Homo sapiens: one gene and its partners. The protein of the gene in region 1 purifies or fractionates together with the protein of each later gene. This does not show direct contact. Each region holds a gene or a part of one and is shown in the gene's direction. Other genes may lie near its edges.

What was found.
Region 2: the proteins of SIGLECL1 (region 1) and SYMPK purify together in Homo sapiens (co-immunoprecipitation; 3 studies listed by BioGRID and IntAct, with this or other methods). This does not show direct contact.
Region 3: the proteins of SIGLECL1 (region 1) and HEATR3 purify together in Homo sapiens (co-immunoprecipitation; 3 studies listed by BioGRID and IntAct, with this or other methods). This does not show direct contact.
Region 4: the proteins of SIGLECL1 (region 1) and IPO9 purify together in Homo sapiens (co-immunoprecipitation; 3 studies listed by BioGRID and IntAct, with this or other methods). This does not show direct contact.
Region 5: the proteins of SIGLECL1 (region 1) and INTS4 purify together in Homo sapiens (co-immunoprecipitation; 3 studies listed by BioGRID and IntAct, with this or other methods). This does not show direct contact.
Region 6: the proteins of SIGLECL1 (region 1) and TNPO1 purify together in Homo sapiens (co-immunoprecipitation; 3 studies listed by BioGRID and IntAct, with this or other methods). This does not show direct contact.
Region 7: the proteins of SIGLECL1 (region 1) and CAND2 purify together in Homo sapiens (co-immunoprecipitation; 3 studies listed by BioGRID and IntAct, with this or other methods). This does not show direct contact.

What each region holds. Positions count from the first base shown.
Region 1 is NC_000019.10:51,261,080-51,264,579, forward strand, and holds part of SIGLECL1 (SIGLEC family-like protein 1), read left to right. Parts: intron 1-2,803; 5' UTR 2,804-2,993; coding exon 2,994-3,015; exon of another isoform or gene 3,016-3,098; intron 3,099-3,500.
Region 2 is NC_000019.10:45,853,148-45,856,647, reverse strand, and holds part of SYMPK (symplekin), read left to right. Parts: intron 1-2,140; 5' UTR 2,141-2,152; coding exon 2,153-2,257; intron 2,258-2,407; coding exon 2,408-2,473; intron 2,474-3,500. UniProt on the Homo sapiens protein: Scaffold protein that functions as a component of a multimolecular complex involved in histone mRNA 3'-end processing. Specific component of the tight junction (TJ) plaque, but might not be an exclusively junctional component. May have a house-keeping rule.
Region 3 is NC_000016.10:50,103,970-50,107,772, forward strand, and holds the end of HEATR3 (HEAT repeat-containing protein 3), read left to right. Parts: intron 1-969; coding exon 970-1,092; 3' UTR 1,093-3,303; downstream 3,304-3,803. UniProt on the Homo sapiens protein: Plays a role in ribosome biogenesis and in nuclear import of the 60S ribosomal protein L5/large ribosomal subunit protein uL18 (RPL5). Required for proper erythrocyte maturation.
Region 4 is NC_000001.11:201,870,657-201,874,156, forward strand, and holds part of IPO9 (importin-9), read left to right. Parts: coding exon 1-202; intron 203-504; coding exon 505-671; intron 672-2,171; coding exon 2,172-2,305; intron 2,306-3,500. UniProt on the Homo sapiens protein: Nuclear transport receptor that mediates nuclear import of proteins, such as histones, proteasome and actin. Serves as receptor for nuclear localization signals (NLS) in cargo substrates.
Region 5 is NC_000011.10:77,883,169-77,886,668, reverse strand, and holds part of INTS4 (integrator complex subunit 4), read left to right. Parts: intron 1-1,752; exon of another isoform or gene 1,753-1,889; intron 1,890-2,716; coding exon 2,717-2,837; intron 2,838-3,500. UniProt on the Homo sapiens protein: Component of the integrator complex, a multiprotein complex that terminates RNA polymerase II (Pol II) transcription in the promoter-proximal region of genes.
Region 6 is NC_000005.10:72,886,161-72,889,660, forward strand, and holds part of TNPO1 (transportin-1), read left to right. Parts: intron 1-909; coding exon 910-1,062; intron 1,063-1,917; coding exon 1,918-2,143; intron 2,144-3,500. UniProt on the Homo sapiens protein: Functions in nuclear protein import as nuclear transport receptor. Serves as receptor for nuclear localization signals (NLS) in cargo substrates.
Region 7 is NC_000003.12:12,810,180-12,813,679, forward strand, and holds part of CAND2 (cullin-associated NEDD8-dissociated protein 2), read left to right. Parts: coding exon 1-145; intron 146-2,810; coding exon 2,811-2,916; intron 2,917-3,066; coding exon 3,067-3,209; intron 3,210-3,500.

The sequences.
Region 1 (3,500 bases):
TTTTTGGACTATGTTAGTAGGCAAACACAAATTTTAAATATATACTTTATTCCTGTTAATGTCAGCTTATCATTAGGAGATATGCCATTCTATCTTTGGTAATGCCTTTTGCTTAAAGTCTGCTTTATGGGATGTTAATGTAGGTATGTCTACATTACCTGGCTTTCTGGTTGGTATTTGCTTGGTGTATGTTTTCATTCTTTGGTTTTTTCTTTTTTTCTTTTTTTGAGACGGAGTCTTGCTCTGTCGCCCAGGCTGGAGTGCAGTGGCATGATCTCGGCTCACTGCAAGCTCTGCCTCCCAGGTTCATGCCATTCTCCTGCCTCGGCCTCCTGAGTAGCTGGGATTACAGGGGCCCGCCACCACACCCAGCTAATTTTTTGTATTTTTAGTAGAGACGGGGTTTCACCGTGTTAGCCAGGATGGTCTGGATCTCCTGACCTCGTGATCCGCCCGTCTCGGCCTCCCAAAGTGCTGGGATTACAGGCATGAGCCACCGCTCCCGGCCCATTTGGTTTTTTAACTGTCCTTTACACTTATGCTTTGGTTGTGTCTTTTGTAAACAGCATGGAGTTTGGCTTTGCTTCTTTTTTCCAATATGATGATCTTAGATTCATAACTGGATAATTTAAGCCATTTATATTTAGTTAAATCACTGATGTATTGGAGTTTAAATCTAACATCTAGGTACATGATTTCTACTTGTCCCAACCGTTCTATTCTCTTTTGTATCCCTTCTGTTTGTTTCTCTGTCTTTATTTTCAAACAAGCTTTTAAATCAAAGTACAATTTTATACAGAGAAGTATTAATACAGATAGTAAGTATACAACTCAAATTATCACAAAGGGAGCAGACCAGTGTAACCACCACTGAGGTCAAGAAATAGAACATTAACAACACCCCAAACACTCCACTCATGTACTACACCATTCATTACCCCCTTTATCCTTGCTATGTTCTGGATGCAAGCACGTTGTATGTGTTGCAAGTATGTTCTCCAGCCCTGCAACTTGCATTTGTCCTCCTTAATGGTATCTTTTGATGCAGAAATTAATTCTGATACAGTCCATTTTATCCATATTTCCTCATAGCTAGTGCTTTTTGGCCCTTTTAAAGAAATATTTCCTTACCTAAAACTTACCAAGATACTCTCCTATGTTGTATTAAAGAATTCCACTGACCAATGTGGTAGCTACTAACTACATATGGCTATTGAGCCCTTATATTATGGCTAGTCTGAATTGAAGTGTGCTGTAAGTGTAAAATATATACAAGATTTTGAAGAGTGTATAAAGAATGTACCAAATCTTAACAATTTTGTGTTGATTGCATGTTGAAATATTGGGTTAGGTTCAATATGAATAACCTAGTGAATAACCTAGGTTTCTTTCACTAGGTTAAATGAAACATCATTAAAATTAATTTTACCCATTTCTTCCTTTTTAATGTGGCTGCTAGAAAATTTAAAATTATACATGTAGTCCACATTTATAGGTCACATTATATTTCTTCACACAGCACTGTTCTAGAAAAAAAGTCTAAGGACTTTCCCAATGTCCCTAGAAGTTATTTTTATGTATGACATGAGGTAGGGGTCTTATTTCCTTTTGCTGTATGGCTGTCCAGTTATTCTGACACAATTTATTCAAAAGAGAGTCCTTTAACTTCTATGCAGTGCCATATTTATCCTAAACCAAGTGATCACATATGTATAGGTATTTTTCTAACCATATAGCCTGTCCCATTGGTATTTTTATTTATCCTTGTGTCAATACCATACTCTATGAATTACTATGTATGTATGTATGTATTTTATTTATTTACTTATTTATTTTGAGATAAAGTCTTACTCTGTAGCCCAAAGCTACAGTGCAGTGGCGTGATCACGGCTGACTGCAGCCTTGACCTCCCTACCTCAGGTGATCCTCCCACCTTAACCTTTCAAGTAGCTGGGACTACAGGTGCGTACCACCACACCCAGATAATTTTTGTATTTTTTGTAGAAACGGGGTTTTACCATGTTGCCCACGCTGGAATTACTATGGATTTTTAAGTCATGATATCCAGTAGGAATTGGAATTGATCATTTTTTTGAGACAGGGTCTCGTGCTGTCTCTTTTTTAATAGAAATTTACTGAGAACAAATTTATTAAATAAATGTCTACATGGGATATAAAAGGGAACATTGTGCCATGCTATACAATGTTACTTACACCATTCATTTCAAATTTTATGGCAAAACAATTATACTGTGGTAGGGAGATGTTGTTTTACACTTCTCACCAAACTAAACATTATCATATTTTTCCTGAGAGAATGTCAACACTTTGCTATCTTAAGTGATCACACCACTGCAATCCAGACTGGGTGACAGAGAGAGAGAAAGACCCTGTCTCAAAAACAAAAACAAACCGGGCATAGTGGCTTATGCCTGTAATCTCAGCTGTTTGGGAGGCCAAGGCGGGTCAGGTGTTTGAGACCAGCCTGGCCAACATGGTGAAACCTCATCTCTACTAAAACTACAAAAATTATTTGGCCATGGTGGTGAATACCTGTAATTCCAGCTACTCGGGAGGCTAAGGCAGAAGAGTCGCTTGAACATGGGAGATGGAGATTGCAGTGAGCCGAGATCGAGCCACTGCACTCCAGCCTGGGCGACAGAGTAAGATTCCATCTCAAAAAACAAAAATAAAACAAAGAATAAAGCAGACATGACACTGAGGCTTCACAGACAATCTTAGTTGCCTCCCTGTCCGTACGTGCTCATGAGCCTCTCATCCCATATAATTCCTGCTTCTCCAGGTGAACAGGCCTTCACGATGACCAGAGACAGAAGCCCCTGACTTGGCTAAAGATACTTCTGCTCTCCCCATCCCCACATCCTCTTTCAGTTACGCATCACCTCACTCCTTCTGAACCATATGGTTCTGATGTCAGAGCCAGTGTAGTAAAGAGCTTCTGCTGTTCCTGAGAACTGTTGCTGCTGGAAGTGATGCTTCCACTGCTACAGCTGGGTAAGTAAGGTGAGAAGCAGCACTGGAGGTGTGTTTGGAAGCCAAGACTCCAGGGCCTGGGTGTTGGCAGGGCAGAGGATGGGCTATGGAGGCATGGAGAAAGAGGACATATGGGCATAAGTACCAAATAATCAACATGAATTAGACAGCTTCTGTGTGTCAGATTTTGACAGGGCTGGTGTGTCTGAAGCAAATAGCAAATTGGGCAAGGGAGAGGGATGGAGAGTGTAGGTGCTATGAAGGCATGAGAGCACTAGGAGCTGTTTCAGACATTACTGGAAGCCCTGAAGTTAAGTTTTTCAGTGTTTCTGTGGGCACACTTTGCCAGGTGGAAAAGACAATTCAGAGGACAGCCATAGAGGGGTCCGTACATGAGAGTCCCCCGCAGATTCCTCAACAGCGCCCCGCAAGTGACTCAGGTGAAGAGACCGAGATCAGGAGCTACTGGTTAGGGGAAAATTACCCCTTTCTTCCAGTAACCTCAA
Region 2 (3,500 bases), 5.4 Mb from region 1:
ATGCAGTAGCCTTCAGATCTTTTCCCATGTACATAAAAATAATAGTATACTTAGCCAATGTTTACTGTATATACTAACTCATTTAATCCTCAAAATAGTCTTGGGAGGTAAGCCCTGTTACTATCCCTGTTTCCTAGAAGAGGAAACTGAGAGCCAGAGAAGTTAAATGTCTTGCCTCAGGTCATTCTGCGTATACATAAACACATACTTGACAAAAATGGCTTGAACTGCATGTATTGTCCTCTGATGCAACAGGCTGTCAGGGACCTCTTTTCAGGATAATATACTGAGATTCACCTTTTTTTTTTGAGATGGAGTCTGTCTTTATGTCCCAGACTGGAGTGCAGTGGCATGATCTCGGCTCACTGCAACCTCCGCCTCCTGGGTTCAAGCGATTCTTCTGCCTCAGCCTCCTGAGTAGCTGGGATTATAGGCTCAGCTAACTGTTGTATTTTTACTAGAGATGGGGTTTCACCATGTTGGCCAGGCTGGTCTCAAACTCCTAACCTCAGACGATCCACCCGTTTCGGCCTCCCAAAGTGTTGGGATTACAGGCGTGAGCCACCGCGCCCGGCTTCACCAATTTTTTTTACCCTGTTTCCTCTGCTGGTTTTTGGTTTATCCTTTCAGATTTTTTTCCTTTTTTAACATATATATTTTTTCCCCTTTCTTTTTTTTGAGTCAAGTTCTCACTCTGCTGCCCAGGCTGGAGGGCAGTGGCCCGATCTTGGCTCACTACAGCCTCTGCCTTCACCTCCCTGAGTAGCTGGGACTACCAGGCACGCCACCATGCCCAGCTAATTTTTATATTTTCTGTAGAGATAGGGTTACACCATGTTGCCCAGGCTGCTCTCCGACTCCTAGGCTCAAGCGATCTGCCTGCCTCAGCCTCCCAAAGTGTTGGGAGTACAGGCATGAGCCACTGCACCTGGCCTCATTTTTCTTTTTTTTTTGTAAAACAGAAACATACAGTCAACACTGTCTTCAGCTTTGCTTGTTTTCACTTAATGTATGCACTCTCTATCAGTGTCTAGAGATTGTTCTCATTTTTTTGTTTTTTTCTTCCTTTCTTGTTACAGTTCCATAGTCTTTTTCCTTTATTTATATTTATATGTTTTTCACTTACTTTCACAGGTGTTGAAGCCCCATGGCCTTTGATTATGTATGAACTTTTTTTCAGCCAGTCTCCCTATTTGAGAACACTTGAGTTGCTTCTAGTCTTTTGCTATTATGAATAGTTGTGTAATTGACATATACTGCTACGTTAATCATTCCATAATTTTGCCTGTGTGACTGTGATGGATGCCTGAAAGCCCCCTTCCTCCCTTTTAAAAACAGCTTCATGATATTCCAGAGAGTGGCTGAAACATAATTATTGAAGCAGGCCTTTTGTGATGTATTGAGTGCCTACTATGTGCCGGACTCTGTGCCTGATATTCCTCAGAGCTGTGTTTTTAAAAGTTTACTCTGGGCCAGGCACTGTGGTTCACGCCTGTAATCCCTGCACTTTGGGAGGCCGAGGCAGGTGGAACACCTGAGGTCAGGAGTTTGACACCAGCCTGGCCAACATGGTGAAACCCTGTCTCTACTGAAAATACAAAAATTAGCTGGGCATGGTGGCATGTGCCCGTAATCCCAGTTACTTGGGAGGCTGAGGCAGGAGAATCACTTGAACCTGGGAGGCAGAGGTTGCAGTGAGCTGAGATCGCACCACCACACTCCAACCTGGGTGACAGAGCAAGACTTCATCTCAAAAAAAAAAAAAAAAGAAAGTTTGCTGTGGTGCCCAGTCCAAAGCATATCCCAGATGGAGAGAGGGGACACACGGAGACCTGCAAGGTGGCTGTTGCACGTTCATGTGGCCCATCGTTCAGCAGCTGTTTGTGGTTGGCCCACTTGAGGCTGAGACTTCTGGCTCTGCCTTGGGAGATGTCAGTCTCCCCCAAGTTACAGGCCCCGTGCACATATCCATAAGCCAGAGACAGACCCTGGAGGGGAGAGGGACTTGAGAAGGCCTGACTGGGGAGGAACAGCCTGGGAAGGAGGCTTGGGCCCTTTGTAGGTGTTCGGGTGACAATCCAGCCCAGCCCATCCGCTGGTTCCCTGAGCTTGATCCATCCTCTTCTTTCCTGGGGACAAGCTGACAGCAGCCATGGCGAGCGGCAGTGGAGACAGCGTCACCCGTCGGAGCGTGGCATCACAGTTTTTCACTCAAGAGGAGGGGCCGGGCATCGATGGCATGACCACCTCAGAGAGGGTGAGCGTGGCGGGTAGGGCTTGGAGTGAGGAAGCATAGCCCCTGGCTTTGGCAATCCCTGTTTAGGTGGCAGAGCCCTGGGAGTGCCGAGGGGGCTGCACTGGGCTGGACTGGGCTGGCACTATCCCCTGCCACTCCCCCTCCTTCCAGGTGGTGGATCTTCTGAACCAGGCGGCGCTGATCACCAATGACTCAAAGATCACAGTGCTCAAACAGGTGAGGGCCCGGGGGGCATCCTGGGCTGAGCAGGTGAAAGGGAGGAGGCTGGGAACCTGAGAAAGACACTTGCAGTAACACCAGTGTCCACATTTACACACTCAGTGTGTGCCGGCCACAGTGCTCAGTGCAGGCCTCTGCTCTTCTAGTTCTCATGAAAGCTCTGTAAGGCAGGGTAGTTTCATCCCTGTTTTATACAGAAAGAAGCAGACCCCGGGGCTTAAATTATTAGCCCAGGGTCACTCTGCTGGGAGCTGGCTGAACTAGTAATTGAATCCTGGATTCCAGCTCCAAATCCTACACTCTTCATCATTGCATTTCTTCTCTGCCAGTGTCCAGTCCAGTGGGGCAGACATTCCTGTCACCAGGCAATGATGACCCAGTGTGGGCAGGGCTGGGATGGAGAAGGGAGCCCAGGGGGGCTCTGGGAGCCCAGAGGGAGCTCCTGACCCAGCCTAGGGATGGGGAGTCAGGGAGGACTTTTGAACCAAGCCATGGAGGATAAAAGGAGAGAAGTGTACCAAATGAGAGAGGCAGAGCATCTCTTTTTTTTTTTTTTTTGAGGCAGAGTCTTGCTCTGTTGCCCAGGCTGGAGTGCCATGGCACGATCCTGGCTCTCACTGCAACTCCTGCCTCAGCCTCTTGAGTAGCTGAGATTACAGGCACCTGCCACCATGCCTGGCTAATTTTTGTATTTTTAGTAGAGACGCGTTTCACCATGTTGACCAGGCTGGTCTCAAACTCGTGAGCTCAAGTGGTCCACCCTCCTTGGCCCCCGCAAACTGCTGGGATTACAGGCACGAGCCACCGTGCCCAGCCAAGAGAGGGAGAGCATGTCAAGCTGAGGGCACAGAAGTGTGTGCAAAGGCAGAAGACGACATGGGACACTTGGGCTGGGCATGGTTCAGAGCAGGAGGCAGTTGGAGTTCAGAGACTGGCAGGGTTAGCATTCCTGTGTGAGAACCCGTTCGGCTCCTTCATCAGCCTGTAGCCTTGTGGAGTAGCCCCACCTCCGAGGTGGAGTGGA
Region 3 (3,803 bases), on another chromosome or scaffold:
AGTGAGCTCAGTGGATTGCAGCACTGCACTCCAGCCTAGGCGATGAAGCAAGACCCATCTCTATTAAAAACAAAAAACAAGCAAACAAACAAAACCAGCGCTGGGCATGGTGGCTCACACCAGTAATCCCAGCACTATGGAAGGCCAAGGTGGTAGGATCACTTGAGCCCACGAGTTCAAGACCAGCCTGGGCAACATAGTGAGACCCCACCTCTACTAAAAATTTAAAAAAATTACTCCAGCATGGTAGTGCGCTGCTTGTAGTCCTAGCTACTGTGGTGGCAGAGGCAGGAGGATCACTTGCGTCCGGGAGGTCGAGGCTGCAGTGACCCATGACTGCAGCACGGCTCTCTGGCCTGGGCGACAGAGAGAGACCCTGTTCCAAAAACAAAAAAACCACAACACTACAGACTAACCTCTGGCTAACAAAGGAATTTTTTTTTTAAGGTGGGGTCTCACTGTGTTGCCCAGGCTAGTCTTGAACTCCTGGACTCAAGCAAACCTCCTGCCTCGGCCTCCCAAACTGCTGGGATTACAGGCATGAGTATGCACCCAGCCTAACAAAGGAATTTCATTAAGGCTTTATACCTTTGAGAGAAGAAAAACAATTAAGTATTATTACCATAGCAATGCATACTAACTAGGAAAATCAATCTGAACAGCAGACCTTTCAGAGGTTAGGGGTTATTTTCCCAATTCATGGTTTACATAATTCCTTTCTATAGTTTATATAACTCCTACCACCTGCCATTCAGTCACCTTTGTAACTATCATTTTTAATAATGCACATTCTCAGTTTATTCTTTACTTACCGAGTTCCATTTACCTTGGAAGTAAAAACATTTTTTCCAAATTCTTACAGCTATCTGCTTCAGCAAATGGTTAAATACACCCTAAATTAAATACTTTATTTAAATGAATTAATCATATCTACCAAGTCATATATGATTTTTTGTTTTTTGTTTGCAGATACGTAAAGAAGGGAGAGGTAACTATAGCACAGATCAGCTGTGTGTTCTTGACAATGTGAAAATGAATTTGCGAAGATTTATTGCTTATCAAGAAACTGTTGAGAAAAGACTGACTTCTTAAACAATCCAAAAAAGAAACCAGTTCTTCCCCCAAAGTATTCAATGCTTAGAATACTAAAAGGTTTTCTTTGAATGTATATGTTTCTGAAAGTCATTTTTTAATGATTACATTCTGTACATTCTGTAAAAACTTCAAAACCTGGCCAGGCATGGTGGCTCACGCCTATAATCCCAGCACCTTGGGAGACCGAGGCGGGTGGATCACTTGAGGTCAGGAGTTTGAGGCCAGCCTGGCCAACATGGTGAAACCGCATGCATAAGCATGGTGGCACATGCCTGTGATCCCAGCTACTCGGGAGGCTGAGGGAGGAGAGTCGGTTGAACCTGGGAGACAGAGGTTGCAGTGAGCTGAGATCACGCTACTGCACTCCAGCCTGGGTGACAGAGGGAGACCCTGTCTCCAAAAAAAAAAAAAAAAAAAAACTTCAAAACCTGTCAGAAACTCTGTTGCTGGTTTTTTTGTGTGTGTGTTTTGTTTGTTTGTTTTGTTTTGTTGTTTTTTTCTTTTTTGAGATGGAGTCTCACTGCTGCCCAGGCTGTATTACAGTGCTGCGATCTTGGCTTACTGCAACCTCTGCCATTCCAGGTTCAAGCGATTCTCATGCCTCAGCCTCCTGAGTAGCTGGAATTACAGGCACCCACCACCACACCTTGTTTTTGTTTTTGGTTTTTTGGTTTGTTTTTTTTTTTCAGTAGAGACGGGTTTCACCGTGTTGGCCAGGCTGGTCTCAAATTCCTGACCTCAAGTGATCCGCCTGCCCTGGCCTCCCAAAGTGCTGGGATTACAGGCATGAGCCACCGTGCCTGGCCAGAAACTCTTTTTTAAGTGATGAGATCTGTGTGGCATTTCTAGCGCTCTCTAAATTATGTCTCTGGCATATTTTAATCACTGGAAACTCAAAGAGTGGAAGAGTGGAAGTGCGAAGGAATCTCAGGTAGCTCTTAACTAATTCGCCAGCAGTGAAGAAACTTCAACCAATCATGTTTTCCTTGAATTTTGCAAAGAAAGAAAATCCAAAGCATTGCTTGGATGTTCTTTTAAGGCATTTTATATCAGTTGAACCTTAAACTGAAATATGAAGACAAGCTTTATAAACTAGTTTTTTGATATGAAGTATATCAATTATGTTTGCCTTTTGTGAAGAAGTAAATGAGTTGAATTTCTATTTCACTTACTAGATTATACTAATGAGCTAATGGGGTCATTGCCATCCTCCCTACTCATGACTTTGATGAGTTATTGCTGTAACATCACTTCTTGATTTAATTTGATATGGAATCAGAATTGGGAGAAGGTATTTTTAAATAAACAACTTTTTAATGGAAAGTTTTGTGTCTTACAAAATCTTTTTTAAGATACCAAATAAAGGGTTATTAGTAGAAAATGAGATGATACTATTCGTGGATATTTGTTTGCTAATGCATATTGCTTGGAATATATGTGAGACATTAAAAAAATGACAGCACGACTTTGCAGCATTACCTCTCAGTGTCTTCGAAGTACTAGGTGACAGCTGGGGCTCGAGGGAGTTTCCCTGTGCATCATTGTCTCGGCTGGGCCTCTGAACCGGCTTCATTGTCCATCCGTTTGCCTGATGAGAAGGGAAATTTGAAAATTTCTGTACAGTTGATCTCAGTTGCCCTGACAAAAGGCCCAATCCCCAGTACAGGACTTAATTTTAATTCACTGCTTCCACAGCAGCACAAAATGAGCTAGTAGTGTTAGATTTCATCTGCACTGTGATGTATTTTACAGTTTTCACCTATATGATATAGACTGTTGGGAAACCAAGATTGTTTCCCAGCCCTAAGAGTTCCTAGCCCATGGCACCAAGTAAAATAACCCAAATTGTGTATATGGTGGGAAAACAGAAATGTATACCATATACAACACCTCGCTTTATTATGGTCCTTGCTCATGAATTTTAAGGTATATATGTATGTTTAGTGATCATTTCAGCTAAATGATTGGCCCAAGCATGTCTCCTTGGAGAACGACTCTTCCAAAAAAGAAAGTATTAGAGTTCTCTCTGCCTCAATTATTTATAAAATATAATTATTTTCAAGGAGAAAAAAGTTCCTCATTCTGTTTATTCTTCCCCACAGTTTCTGACCTATAAACAATATCCAGGATATTTAGCACAGGACCTAGTATATAGTCGACTCTTCATAAATATTTGTTGAGTAAATAAATGCTGGTGATTTTCTCGTTGTTTTGTGTGTGATTTTCTGTTTTACTAAGCAAGCTCTAAAGCAGCTGTTGAATGCAGAATCATCCTTAAACACGGTAGAAGATGAGATGACACTGAAGATGTGCCATCCTAAAAATCTCTTAGATTCTGAGGCATGGATAATTGGGTCTGGATTTCTCCCATTCAACTTTACCACTCTAACGACACAAAAGAAGGGAAAACAACTCATAAATACAGCATACAGTTTTAACTATTTACATAATAACTCAATAGAGCATGCAAGTATTATTCATGGCACAGGATAATGGAGAGCTTTTTCTGTATGACCATAGGGGAAAAAAAGTCTGCTTTAAAATATACTTATTTGAAAATCACCCAGAATAGCCCGTTAGAAATACACACTGGAGGCCAAGCATTTTGGGAGGTCGAGGTGGGCAGATCACTTAAGGTGAGGAATTTGAGACCAGCCTGGCCAACATAGTGAAATCCCATCTCTACAAAAATACAAAAACTAGCTGGG
Region 4 (3,500 bases), on another chromosome or scaffold:
CCACAATGGACTGTGGTATGTGATGCAAGTGGTGAGCCAGCTCCTGGACCCCCGCACCTCAGAGTTCACTGCGGCCTTTGTGGGCCGCCTTGTTTCCACCCTCATCTCCAAGGCAGGGCGGGAACTCGGGGAGAATCTAGACCAGATTCTTCGTGCCATCCTCAGTAAGATGCAGCAGGCAGAGACGCTCAGTGTCATGCAGGTAAGAGAGCAGTGGGGAGTGGGCTTCCTACTCCCTGGCTGATAGAAATGAAAATTCGTATTTTGGTCCTGAGTTATTTTATTTTACCCTCTTACTAGCCTTGTAGGACAGTTAAGTAAAATGGGACCTGTCTGATCTGTTTGGCCTAAGAAACATGGACAAGGAAATCTCCCATGTTTTCTTGTCCTGTGGATAATACCCTCAGTGTAGACTGTATTTCTTATCTGACTGGCCAGTTCCCTCTCATCTCCTATGTCTCTGAAATTGATTTCCCTGAAGCAAATGTCCTTATTTTCTCCTAGTCCCTGATCATGGTGTTCGCTCATCTGGTGCACACTCAGCTAGAACCTCTCTTGGAGTTCCTGTGTAGCCTCCCAGGACCTACTGGCAAACCTGCTCTAGAGTTTGTGATGGCTGAGTGGACAAGCCGACAGCACCTGTTCTATGGACAGTATGAAGGCAAAGTCAGGTAGAACCTCATCTTTCTTTTCTGGGCATTCTGCCACCACTCATATTTCTTTTTTTTTTTTTTTTTTTTTTTTTTTTTTGAGACAGTCTCGCTCTGTCGCCCAGGCTGGAGTGCAGTGGCACAATCTTGGCTCACTGCAACCTCCACCTCCTAGGTTCAAGCAATTCTCCTGCTCCTGCCTCAGCCGTCCGAATATTACACACATGCACCACCATACCCAGTGAATTCTTTGTGTGTGTGTTTTTAGTAGAGAGAGGGTTTCACCATGTTGGCCAGGCTGGTCTTGAACTCCTGACCTCAAGTGATCCACCCACTTCGGCCTCCCACAGTGCTGGGATTACAGGTGTGAGCCACTGCTCCTGACACATATTTCTTTTTTTTCCTGATTTGCTCCATTGATTTTTGTTTGACATTTCAAATGGCTCTCTGTATTCCCTTTTCCCTGTCTTTCTTTATTGCTAACGCACATATGTGAATAGCTGCCATCTTGAAATCCCCAAAAGACAGTCAACACAGGTAGACTATATATTTCTGGTCTCTGTTTACAAGAGATCCCTTCTCTACCACAGACTTCACACAGCTAAGTGCTGCTAGTGGCTTATTTTCCTTTATAAGCCCAAGCCTTGGCCAGGCACAGTGGCTCACACCTATAATCCCAGCACTTTAGGAGGCTGAGGCGAGCAGATCACCGGAGGTCAGGAGTTCAAGACCAGCCTGGCAAACATGGTGAAACACTGTCTCTACTATAAATACAAAAAATAGCTGGATGTGGTTGTGGGTGCCTGTAATCCCAGCTACTCGGGAGGCTAAGGCAGGAGAATCGCTTGAACCAAGGAGGCAGATCACGCCATTGCACTTCAGCCTGGGCGACGAGCGAAATTGTCTCAGAAAAATAAAAATAAAAAACCCAACCTTCTAACCCTGGCTTCCTAACTTTTTATCCTGGATTTTTATACCACTGATTCTTATCACCTCGTTGCACCTTACAATATGGTGCAACCTTAGCTTTGTTCAAGAAGAACAGGTCACCTGTAATCCCGGCACTTTGGAAGACTGAGGTGGGCGAATTGCTTGAGACCCACCCGGGCAACATGGTGAAACCTGTGTCTACCAAAAAAATACAAAAATTAGCCAGGCACGGTGGCGCATGCCTATAGTCCCAGCTACTTGGGAGGCTGAGGTGGGAGGATCACCTGAACCCAGGGAGGTCAAGGCTGCAGTGAACCATGATCACACCACTGCACTCAGCCTGGGTGACAGAATGAGACCCTATCTCAAAAACAACAACAACAACAACAACAACAAAAAAGCACAGATCTCATTAAACCACCTCATGAACTCTAAAATCTCATTTTCAGCTGAACTCTCTTAGCTCTCCTAATTAGTTGTTAACGGAATTTTCACTATCAAATAGAGGGTCTTAGGACATAATTGCTTATCTCCTTGGAGTGAACTCGAGATGGGCGGCTGATTGACCTTTTTTTGGATCTTCCTTGCCAGCTCTGTGGCACTCTGTAAGCTGCTCCAGCATGGCATCAATGCAGATGACAAACGGCTACAGGATATCCGTGTGAAGGGAGAGGAGATCTACAGCATGGATGAGGGCATCCGCACCCGCTCTAAGTCAGCCAAAAGTGGGTGCTGCTGCGATTCTTCCAATCCTCTCCCTATACGAAGGGGCTAAGGATACCTGGGTGAAGGGAAGGAATGCACTGTGGTGTATATTTTTAAAACAATTGTTGGTGATGGGTTTGATAAAGAAGAAGCAGGAAACTTAGGTAAAAGGGATCAGAACATACGGTTTCTTCCTGTTGTGGAAAATGGACAAAAATAGGCCGGGCATGGTGGCTCACGCCTGTAATCCCAGCACTTGGTGGGAGGCCAGAGCGGATGGATCACTTGAAGTCAGGAGTTTGAGACTAGCCTGACCAACATGGTGAAATCCCGTCTTTACTAAAAATACAAAAATTAGCCAGGCATGGTGGTGGGCGCCTGTAATCCCAGCTACTTGGGAGGCTGAGGCAGGAGAATCGCTTGAACCTGGGAGGCAGAGGTTGCGGTGAGCAAAGATCGTGCCACTGCATTCCAGCCTGGACAACAAAATGAGACTCCGTCTCAAAAAAAAAAAAAAAAAAAAAATGCAGGCGTGGTGGCTCACACCTGTAATCCCAGCACTTTGGGAGGCCGAGGTGGGTGGATCGCCTGAGGCCGGGAGTTCGAGACCAGCCTGACCAACATAGAGAAACCCCGTCTCTACCAAAAATACAAAGTTAGCCAGGCATGGTGGCGCATGCCTGTAATCCCAGCTACTCGGGAGGCTGAGGCAGGAGAATCGCTTGAACCCGGGAGGTGGAGGTTGCAGTGAGCCAAGATCACGCCATTGCACTCCAGCCTGGGCAATAAGAGCAAAACTCTGTCTGAAGAAAAAAAAAAGACAAAAATAGTCTCAGGCACCAAGCATCCCAGCTTCCAGCTTCATTCAGAAGCGTGGGCACAGATAGTCAGCATGTCTTTGTTACTGAGTTGCCTTTGGCCTGTAACTCCAATGATTTGCAGGTAGGGAGTATAGAGCTGCTATCTTTAATGTAGATTTATAATTACCTCCGCTGTCTCTCAAATTCTAAGTCATTGGGACTGGAGTACTGGCTCTATACAGTTCCTTGGTTTCAGAGCTTTATTACTAACAAGACTGTATCTCCTTTAATCCCTGAACTCTCATCTCTCCCAGCTTCTGAACTGTTACAATACCAAACAATAAAGTTATTTAACTTTAAGTCACTCTTTGGAGACTGGATATAGTCAGGTACAGTGAAAGTCTGAGGGGTGGTG
Region 5 (3,500 bases), on another chromosome or scaffold:
GCTGATTCCGCCAAGCCCATTCCCTTGGCTGTGGTTTCGCTGGATAGTAGGTAGGGACAGTGGGAATCTCGTTCATCCATTCATGTGCGTCACTAATTAGATGACAAGGCATTTGGCTACCTTAAGAGAGTCATAGTTACTCCCGCCGTTTACCCGTGCTTCATTGAATTTCTTCACTTTGACATTCAGAGCACTGGGCAGAAATCACATGGCATCAACACCCGCCGCGGGCCTTCGCGATTATTAACTCTTGTAAGCCTAATCTAGGTTACTGTATTCTACCTGATGATCATTCATACTGGCCATTTCCTTCCTCTGACCTACTTGGGCCACAGGTTTCTAAGCTCCACTTTTGGAGTAGACAAATGAAAGAAGGCTTCCAGCAACCATTTCACAGAGGAGTGAAGGCCTTTCACCAAGGACAGTTTTGCTGAGAATGCTGGGAATTTTTTTTTTCTTTTTTTTGAGACAAGGTCTCTGTCTGTTGCCTGGGCTGGAGTGCAGTGGCATGGTCAGCTCACTGTGACCTCAAACTTCTGTGTCCAAGGGATCCTCCTGCCTCAGCCTCCTGAGTAGCTGGAACTAGAGATACACACCACTACACCTGGCTAATTTTAATTTTTTTTGTGTGGAGATTGGGGGGTCTTACTTTTTTGCCCAGTCTCGTCTTAAACTCCTGTCTTCAAGCAATCCTCCCGCCTCAGCCCCGCAAAATGCTGGGATTATAGGCATGAGCCACTGCACCTGCTGAACACAGAAATTATGGCCCCTGTTCATTTGTTTTTCCCATGATCATTGCTGTTTCAGCCCCCCTCTGCCCTTCTTTTTCTTTCTTTCTTTCTTTTTTTTGAGACAGAATCTCACTCTGTCACCCAGGCTGGAGTGCAGTGGCAGCGATCTCAGCTCACTGCAACCTCTGCCTCCCAGGTTCAAGTGATTCTCCTGCTTCAGCCTCCCAAGTAGCTGGGACTACAGGCACACGCCACCATACCCAGCTAATTTTTGTATTTTTAGTAGAGAAGGGGTTTCATCATGTTGACCAGACTGGTCTTGAACTCCTGACCTCAAGTAATCCACCTGGCTCAGCCTCCCAAAGTGCTGGGATTACAGGTGTGAGCCACTGTGCCCGGCCCTCCCCTTCATTTTCTAAAAAAAAATGAAGCCCAAGCACTTGTCTTTAAAGATAATAAGGATCAGGAAACTGAGACACCTGCATTTTTTTCCTATAGTAGGTTTGGGAGCTTGGAGCCTAGAACTAGAGTGGGGAGTAGCAGCTTTAAGAAATAAGGGTAGGCCAGGTGTGGTGGCTCACGCCTGTAATCCCAACACTTTGGGAGGCTGAAGTAGGAAGATCACCTGAGGTCAGGAGTTCGAGACCAACCTGGCCAACATGGTGAAACCCCATCTCTACTAAAGATACAAAATTAGCCGGGCATGACGGTGGGCGCCTGTAATCCCAGCTACTTGGGAGGCTGAGGCAGGAGAATCACTTTAACCCGGGAGGCGGAGGTTGCAGTGAGCCGAGATCATGCCACTGCAGTTCAGCTTGTGTGACAGAGTGAGACTATCTCAAGAAAAGAAAAAAGAAAAAGAAAAAGAAATAAGGGTAGGCTGGGCACAATTGCTCATGCCAGTAATTCCAACACTATGGGAGTCTGAGGCAGGAGGATCACTTGAGGTCAAGAGTTGGAGACTAGCCTGGGCAACATAGCAAGATCTTGTCTCTACAAAAAAATTTAAAAAGAAAATTACCTGGCGTGGTGGCACGTGCCTGTAATCCCCACTCCTCAGGAGGCTGAGGCAGGAAGATCACTTGCGCCCAGGAGTTTGAGGCTTCAGTGAGTTATGATCGTGCCACTGCACTCCAGCCTGGGTGGCAGAGTAAGACCCTGTTTTAAAGAAAAAAAAAGAAAGAAAGAAGTGTAGAATCAGGGGGAGGCCCCATGACCTGAGGAGAGATGAAGGATTATAGGGCAAGTGGGTGAGACATGCCTTCCGCAGTTTCAACATTGACCACAGTTTCAACATTGGAAGACCTGTGTGGTTCCCTACTCTGCCTTCATAAGTATATTTACATAGAGCAGGTCCTAGTCCTAGGATAAGCTTCATTTGTTCCTCTAGTTCCTTTGTGCGCTGCAGTATAGTAGGCTGTCTACACAGGGAGCTGGGAGGTCCCCCAGGATGCTGAGGAAAGAACTCTGTTGCAGTTTATGAGCCTTAAAGAACTGGCCAGTGATTTGAGTGGACTCTTCATTGAGCCGTCTCTCCGTAGAGAGAGAGATAAATGACTTCCTAGCTGCTTGCAATGTAGTGGAAAGAATGCAATTACAAAATAACTCCAAATACTGGTGGTTGGTGATGGATGCTGGGCCATGGTATGATTCAGAGCCAGGGAGGGAGTGCTCTTCTGGTGAAGGTGCCTGAGAACACTTTTCATAATAAGAATTAATATTCTTACCTGTCTTTGCGCTTAATAGAGACACTCTGTTCATATTACTTATTCACCATGAATTCAGGAAATGTTTACTGAACACTGCTTCATGCTGGATTAGGGGAATAGAGATGTCTACAGTGTTGACCTACCCCCAAGGCTCAATCTTAGTAAAGTTGGTGTCATGTTTCTTCTTGTGTTTTGAGGTTCACAACAGATGTCATCATCCATTTTGTTAAATGCTCCTCTCGCTTCTGCCTTTTTCTCATTTCTGTCACCCTTTAGGTCTTATATCCAGATGGCCAGGCTCAGATGATTCACCCCAAGCCTGCAGACTTCCGGAATCCTGGCCCAGGGCGGCACCGGCTCATCACTCAGGTTTATCTCTCCCACACCGCTTGGACAGGTAAGGAGTCAGGACCAGGGTGGGAAGGGAAATATGCTGCTGGAGATCACACCTACCCTTAAGCGTTTGGTTTTTAAAGTTTGAAAAAAATACATGGATGAATCAGGCCTTGTAAGAATTGAACTTAATGAGTTTATAAGCACTCATTAAGTGGGTAAAAAACTGGGTATATTTGGGCTAATTTGCTACAGTGCTTTGATTGCATGAGAGATAAGATTCTGTTGGAAGATATACAGGCGATTATGATAGAATGGAGTCTCATGGAAAGGGCCCTGGTCTGGACACCAGGAGATTATTCTTATCCTAACTGCCACCGACTTGCTTGGTCACCTTAGACAAGTCTCTCCCTTTCTGAGTCTTTTTCCTTATCTTCCAAATGACAATAATAATTCTCAACCTACAAATTAGTTGTGAGGATTTTTAAAAATATTTTTTTTCATTTGCCAACTTATGTCTGAATTGTGAGGATAAAATGGGAGAATACAAGTACAAAGGAGATTACATTTCAAGCCTGTAAGCCTGCTTTAAAAAACTTAAGAAGACCTCAGTCTGCAGAACCTAGAATAGGGGGCAGAATTGGCCTCAGTGGTGTTTCCCAAATAATTGGAGATGGTTCAGGAGCACTGTTACTGGAGGTGTTTAATGCCACCAAATTTGGTTTAT
Region 6 (3,500 bases), on another chromosome or scaffold:
TGTTGTTCTTTTTGATTTTGTTGCTCTTGTCTAAATTATTATTATAATAAAATCTGGGTTGATTTATAGTCCCATAGTTAATTCTTTGTAAAGAGTATTTTCTAGCATGCGTTATGTTTCATGTGCCAGTGACTTTTCTTCCAGTTTTTGTGTCTAAAGTCCAGCTAAGTAATTGTCTGTTTAATTCTAGATGATATACTGCTGGAAATGTTAAGTAGAGTTAATAATGTATGTTTTTTGCGTGATTGTAACAGTGATTGTAATCATGATTGTAATATGAGTGTATCATATTGAATGGTTATGTTAGAAGCACTGAATTGAGTGGCACAGTATTTGTTTTACTGTATAGACAGAATTCTAGTATGACAGTTATGTACAGAATACAATGTGTTCACAATTAATTTGCCAAGTAAGTTCTTGTCATAAAAAATATTCATCTTAATAGAAAATGTTTTTGGCTGGGCATGGTGGCTCACACCTGTAATCCCAGCACTTTGGGAGGCTGAGGAGGGTGGATCACGAGGTCAGGAGTTTGAGACCATCCTGGCCAACATGGTGAAACCCCGTCTCTCCTAAAAATCAGCTGTGCGTACTGGCACACACCTGTAATCCCAGCTACTCAGGGGGCTAAAGCGGGAGAATCACTTGAACCTGGGAGGCAGAGGTTGCAGTGAGCCAAGATCGCACCACTGCACTCCAGCCTGAGCGACAGAACAAGACTCCATCTCAAAAAAAAAAAAAAAAAAAAAAACCACAAAATGTTTTCACGTGACAAACTACCTCCTATTCAATTGAATTCTTATTTTAAAACTCCGTATTAGAGATACGAATAAAATGTTACATATACAATAAATAATATATAAGTAATAAGAGGTTAATGTAATATTTTTGAATTAAATATTTCCTTAGGAAAATGTTCTGCTGCTGCCCTGGATGTTCTTGCAAATGTGTATCGTGATGAACTGCTGCCACATATTTTGCCCCTTTTGAAAGAATTACTTTTTCATCATGAATGGGTTGTTAAAGAATCAGGCATTTTGGTTTTAGGAGCAATTGCTGAAGGTAAGCCTAAGTCCAGTTTGAATTATGTAAGTTGGCTTCTTACTACTATTAGGTACTAATAAGGCTAGGCTACTTTAAGGAATTTCTATTTTGAACCAGATAACTAGTATTAAACAGCCATAGGCCGTCTTCTAACCCCAGCTAGATATTTTGCAAAATGTTTTTGTTATAATAAAGGTAACAGAGGCCAGGCATGGTGGCTCACGCCTATAATCTCAGCACTTTGGGAGGCTTAGGCGGGTGGATTACCTGAGATGGTTTCAAGACCAGCCTGGTTAACATGGCGAAACCACGTCTGCTAAAAATACAAAAATTAGCTGGGCGTGGTGGCATGTGCCTGTAGTCCCAGCTACTTGGAAGGCTGAGGCAGGAGAATTGCTTGGACCTGGGAAGTGGTAGTTGCAGTGAGCTGAATTCGTGCGATTGCACTCCAGCCTGGGTGACAGAGCAAGACTCCATCTCAATAAAAAATAAAAACAAAAAAATTAAGGGAACAGAATGAAAGGCTCTGATGTCTGAAGCATCCCCATTGCTTTAAAAAAAAATCCTTGATTCTTTAGGTAAGTATAGGAAACACAATAAGGCAAGACTCTCTTCATTCTCTATGAAGGGTTATTATTGATTTTGTCCTGGCAGTAAACATCTATTAGAAGAAATTGAAACACTGTAAGATGCTTGGGAGCAGGTAGCTCTAACTTCAGGGTTTTAAAAATAATTTTGGTATAGGTTATTGTAGTATGTGTATAGCAGTAGAAATATTCTGAATTTTTTCATAGATACGTGTTTTATTTTCATAATCAACCAAAATAATGTTAACTAAATTTTAGCATTTTGAAAGATTTATTTTTTTTCTAGGTTGCATGCAGGGCATGATTCCATACTTGCCTGAGCTTATTCCTCACCTTATTCAGTGCCTCTCTGATAAAAAGGCTCTTGTGCGTTCCATAACATGCTGGACTCTTAGCCGCTATGCACACTGGGTGGTCAGCCAGCCGCCAGACACGTACCTGAAGCCATTAATGACAGAATTGCTAAAGCGCATCCTGGACAGCAACAAGAGAGTACAAGAAGCTGCCTGCAGGTGGGACAGATTCATAACACAGTGTTCTTTGTGGCAGTGAAAAACTTAATTTTCAACCTTCTGATGGAGTGTTGGTGTTAAACCTATAATGAAGTGTTTCGTAATTGAAAATTTTCCAGTTATATCAGAAAGCTTAGTTTTCTTTTTTCTTCTTGGTGAAGTGTTTTGCAGGATCTGTAGCTTTTGGGTTTGCATATTAGCGTATTTTATACATTTTGTTTGGCCAGGAGAATTTTGTCATGTGGGTTTTACCTGATGATTTTGTAGATCTAAATGTGACAACATCGATCTTAGCTGTTTCTTCTTTGGCTCATTTTTCCCACTCAGTGGTTATTATAACAGAACTATCTTACACCCTAATTCCCTCAGACATCTGAACTAGTGATGGCAGGACTCCTACTCTTGAAGGAATAACAACGTTTGAGCAGATTGACATCCTTAGACTACAGGTCAACCACCATAACTCAGAAAGTCCCACAGGGACCTGTGGTCTGTCACTTACCAGTTAAAGGTCTTTGAGTGCTTAGTAGTTCTGCTCTAGTAGCCATTCTATTGGTTGGTTTGGTGGCTGTCTCTTTATATCAAGCCAGCAGTTGCTTTTATTACTACAAATATTCCAGTTTCCTGCAATATACCTTTATATTTTAAAAGGGCCTTCTGCTTATGTTTATAGTTCTTAATTTTTCGAGTAGGTTTGCTTTTACCATTGACCTTGATAGTAGGAAAAAATAACTGTTGAACAAAAAAAAGGAAAATTTTATTTTATTTTTTTTAGATGGAGTCTTGCTCTGTCGCCCAGGCTGGAGTGCAGTGGTGTGATCTTGGCTTACTGTAACCTCCGCCTCTCGGGTTCAAGCAATTCTCCTGCCTCTGCCTCCTGAGTAGCTGGGACTACAGGTGTGCGACACCATGCCCAGCTAATTTTTGTATTTTTAGTAGAGATGGGGTTTTGTCATGTTGGCCAGGCTGGTCTTGAACTCCTGACCTCAAGTGATCCACCCATCTTGGCCTCCCAAAGTGCTGGGATTGCAGGCGTGAGCCACCGCGCCTGGCAGGGATAGTAAATTTGAGTTTGACCTTAATCCATCTGAAGCAGTCATATCTGGAAGATATTAAGGGAGGGAGGATATAGATTATGTTTGAGATCCTATAATTTATTCATTCAGTACCTCGGTTTTTTTTTTTAGCTATTAATTGTTAAGCATATACTAAATGCTGAGTTTACATAAAGTCCCTGCCATCTTGAGACTTACAGGTTAGTAGGAAATACAAAGCAGCAACATAATTATCATTTATGGCAAGTGCTATGGAAGAAATCGGTAAATAATTCACAGTGCTGATGACCAGGGCTTTCATT
Region 7 (3,500 bases), on another chromosome or scaffold:
GCCTGCAGCACCGACCTCTTCGTCGAGCTCGCTGACCACCTACTGGACCGGCTGCCCGGCCCGCGGGTGCCCACCAGCCCGACTGCCATCCGCACCCTGATCCAATGTTTGGGCAGCGTCGGCCGCCAGGCCGGCCACCGCCTCGGTAAGGGGGCAGGGGGCGGGGCCTGGGCTGGCATGGTGGGCGGAGCTTAGGGTGAGCCAATGACTCGGTAAAGGGGCGGAGCTTGGGCCGCAGTGCAGCCAGGGCCTAAGGGTGGGCCGTCTGCCTTGGTAGGGAGGATGGGGCGGGGCCTGGGCTGATGTGGTGGGTGGGGCCTGGGGCGGGCGGCTGAAGCCCCTGAAACGCAGAGGTTGGGGCCGGATAGGGCTTGAGAGGCGCAGGGCGGGCCCTGAGCTCGACAAACCCCCAGGCCTGAGCCCCTGCTGAGTGCAGACGGTTCAGAGAAGGGGGTTGGTTCAATCACTTATGAGACGTGGAGGCTGGCTGGTAATTACAATTTTAAGTCATGCCACTAAACTGTTAGACTATGTTCTCTTCTCCCAGTTTGACAAAGATATCTTAGTAACAGCCCATGAGCCAAGTTTGAATTTTTAAGAAACAATTTAATGTGCATACAATAAACCGCACTATTTAAAGTGTGCAATTCAGTGTGTTTTGACCTTTGTGTATATCCGTGAAACCTTTCCATCACCCCCAAAAGCTTCCTTGTGTCCGTTTGCAGTCCAGCTCTCTGCCTTGTCCAGGAAGCCACTGATCTGCTTTCTGTCACTATAGATTAGTTTTTTAGAAATGGAAAGCTGCAATCAGGTTTGAATGTATCCTCAGACACCTTGGAGTTCTGACTATACCAAGACAGTTTGGATAGAACTGGCATATGGTCAGCCCCTCCCAACCCCTGGCTCTCTCACTGCAAGGGGCCTTGCAGGCACACGGCGGGGGGTGGGGGGGGGAACCCCAGCTGACATGGCCACACCCTGTCCCATTTCTCCCAAACAGCAGCCAGCCCTCAGCCATCCTTGGTTGCATGGACCTAGGAAAGAGGCCTGCGCAGGCTCGGACAAGGGGTCAGGATCCATTGGGCAGGAAACTCGGGTCCCCAGATACCCAGACAGAATGGAGTCTAGGAGTGTTGGGGGTCTCTAGGTCAGCATGTCTCTTCTTATGCTGTAGGGAAGGGTATGGCTGGAGAAGGGCTTGAGTGGAGTGCTCTAAAGCCTGGAGACCAGGCAGGAACCCCTCTTGCCTGGTCTATTAGGGCAGTACCTGCCTCCCTTTCTCCTATCCAAGGACTTAAACCTAGTGAAGGAAATTAGGCCAGGACATGAATAATGGTTTTGATAACAGATGCTATTTATCGAGTGCCTGCTCGTGTAGAACCTGGACTAAGCTTTTTTATTTATTTTTTTGAGACGGAGTCTCGCTCTGTTGCCCAGGCTGGAGTGCAATGGTGCAGTCTCGGCTCACCGCAACCTCCGCCTCCCGGATTCAAGTGATTCTCCTGTCTCAGCCTCCTGAGTAGCTGGCACTACAGGCGCACGCTACCATACCCAGCTAATTTTTGTATTTTTAGTAGAGACGGGGTTTAACTATGTTGGTTGGCCAGGTTGGTCTTGAACCCCTGACCTTGTGATCCCATGATCTGCCCGCCTCGGCCTCCCAAAGTGCTGGGATTACAGGGGTGAGCCACTGCACCCAACCTTGGACTAAGCTTTTTTAACTTCTTTTTTTTTTTTCTTTTTGAGACTGAGTCTCGTGTCTTGCTCTGTTTCCCAGGCTGGAGTGTAGTGGCACGATCTCTGCTCACTGTAACCTCCACCTCCCAGGTTCAAGCAATTCTGCCTCAGCCTCCCAAGTAGCTGGGATTACAGGGGCGCACTGCCACGTGCAGCTAATTTTTGTATTTTTAGTAGAGATGGAGTTTCACCATGTTGGCCAAGCTGGTCTCGAACTCCTGACCTCAGATGATCCATCTGCCTTGGCCTCCCAAAGTGCTGGGATTACAGGTGTGAGCCACCATGCCCGGCCTAAGCTGTTTATCTTTTTTTTTTTTTTTTTTTGGAGATAGAATCTCGCTCTGTCCCCCAGGCTGGAGTACGGTGACGCTATCTTGTCTCACTGCAACCTCCACCTCCCAGGTTCAAGCAATTCTCCTGCCTCAGCCTCCTGAATAGCTGGGACTACAGGTGTGTGCCACCGTGCCCGGCTAATTTTTTTTTTTTTTTTTTTTTTTTTGAGACGGAGTCTCGCTCTGTCGCCCAGGCCAGACTGCGGACTGCAGTGGCGCAATCTCGGCTCACTGCAAGCTCCGCTTCCCGGGTTCACGCCATTCTCCTGCCTCAGCCTCCTGAGTAGCTGGGACTACAGGCGCCCGCCACCGCGCCCGGCTAATTTTTTGTATTTTTAGTAGAGACGGGGTTTCACCTTGTTAGCCAGGATAGTCTCGATCTCCTGACCTCATGATCCACCCGCCTCGGCCTCCCATAGTGCTGGGATTACAGGCGCGCCTGGCCTAAGCTATTTATCATTATATAATTTATCTTCACAAAATCTCTGCCCAGGAGGCACTGTTATCCTTGTTGTGAAGATTAGCTGACTAAGGTCAAAGAAATGTTGTGACCTGCCCAAGGTCCCATAGCAGTTGGGTGGCAGAGTCAGGGCTAGAACCCACATTTGCTTGACTATGAAACCTCTGAGTTGAATCTACAGTGGTCAGGGCTGCAGGTGCATAGACAGTCTGAGTGCTGTGGGCTGGGGGAACTCCGGGAGAGTGTCTGGCTTGGGTTCAGTGATCCACCTGGCCCTGCAGGGGCTCACCTGGACCGCCTGGTGCCCCTGGTGGAGGATTTCTGCAACCTGGATGATGATGAGCTCCGGGAGTCCTGCCTCCAGGCTTTTGAGGCCTTCTTGAGGAAGTATGTATGGTGGGGTTGCCTGGGGATCCCTTTGGGAAGTTGGTGGGGATGCTGGCCCAAAGCAGTAAAATTTCAGGACTCCCATTGGGCCCTGTCCCCCACTCCTGTCCTGGCTGGATCCAGCAAAGCATTCCTCATCCTGCCCCACAGGTGCCCCAAGGAAATGGGTCCTCACGTGCCCAACGTGACCAGCCTCTGCCTCCAATACATAAAACACGACCCCAACTACAACTACGACAGTGATGAGGATGAGGAGCAGATGGAGACAGAGGATAGTGAATTCAGTGAGCAAGGTTGGTGGACAGCCCATCATTGGGGTTGGAGGGTGGAGGTGAACACAGCCTTCCTGGGATCCCCCAACCAAAGACAGCGGTCACATTTGGTGCCCCTGTCCTGATGCCAGCTCTTTCTCAAGCTCCAGTCCCACCCGCTGTGACTGCACAGACCACAGTAATGATAGTAGTCATTGCTGTCATTTATTGAGCATCTACTAGTTGTGTTCCTCACAATAACCCTAAAAAAACAGAAATTATTACCCACGTGTTTCAGACAAGGACACATACTGAGAAGAGAGTGGCCTGAGA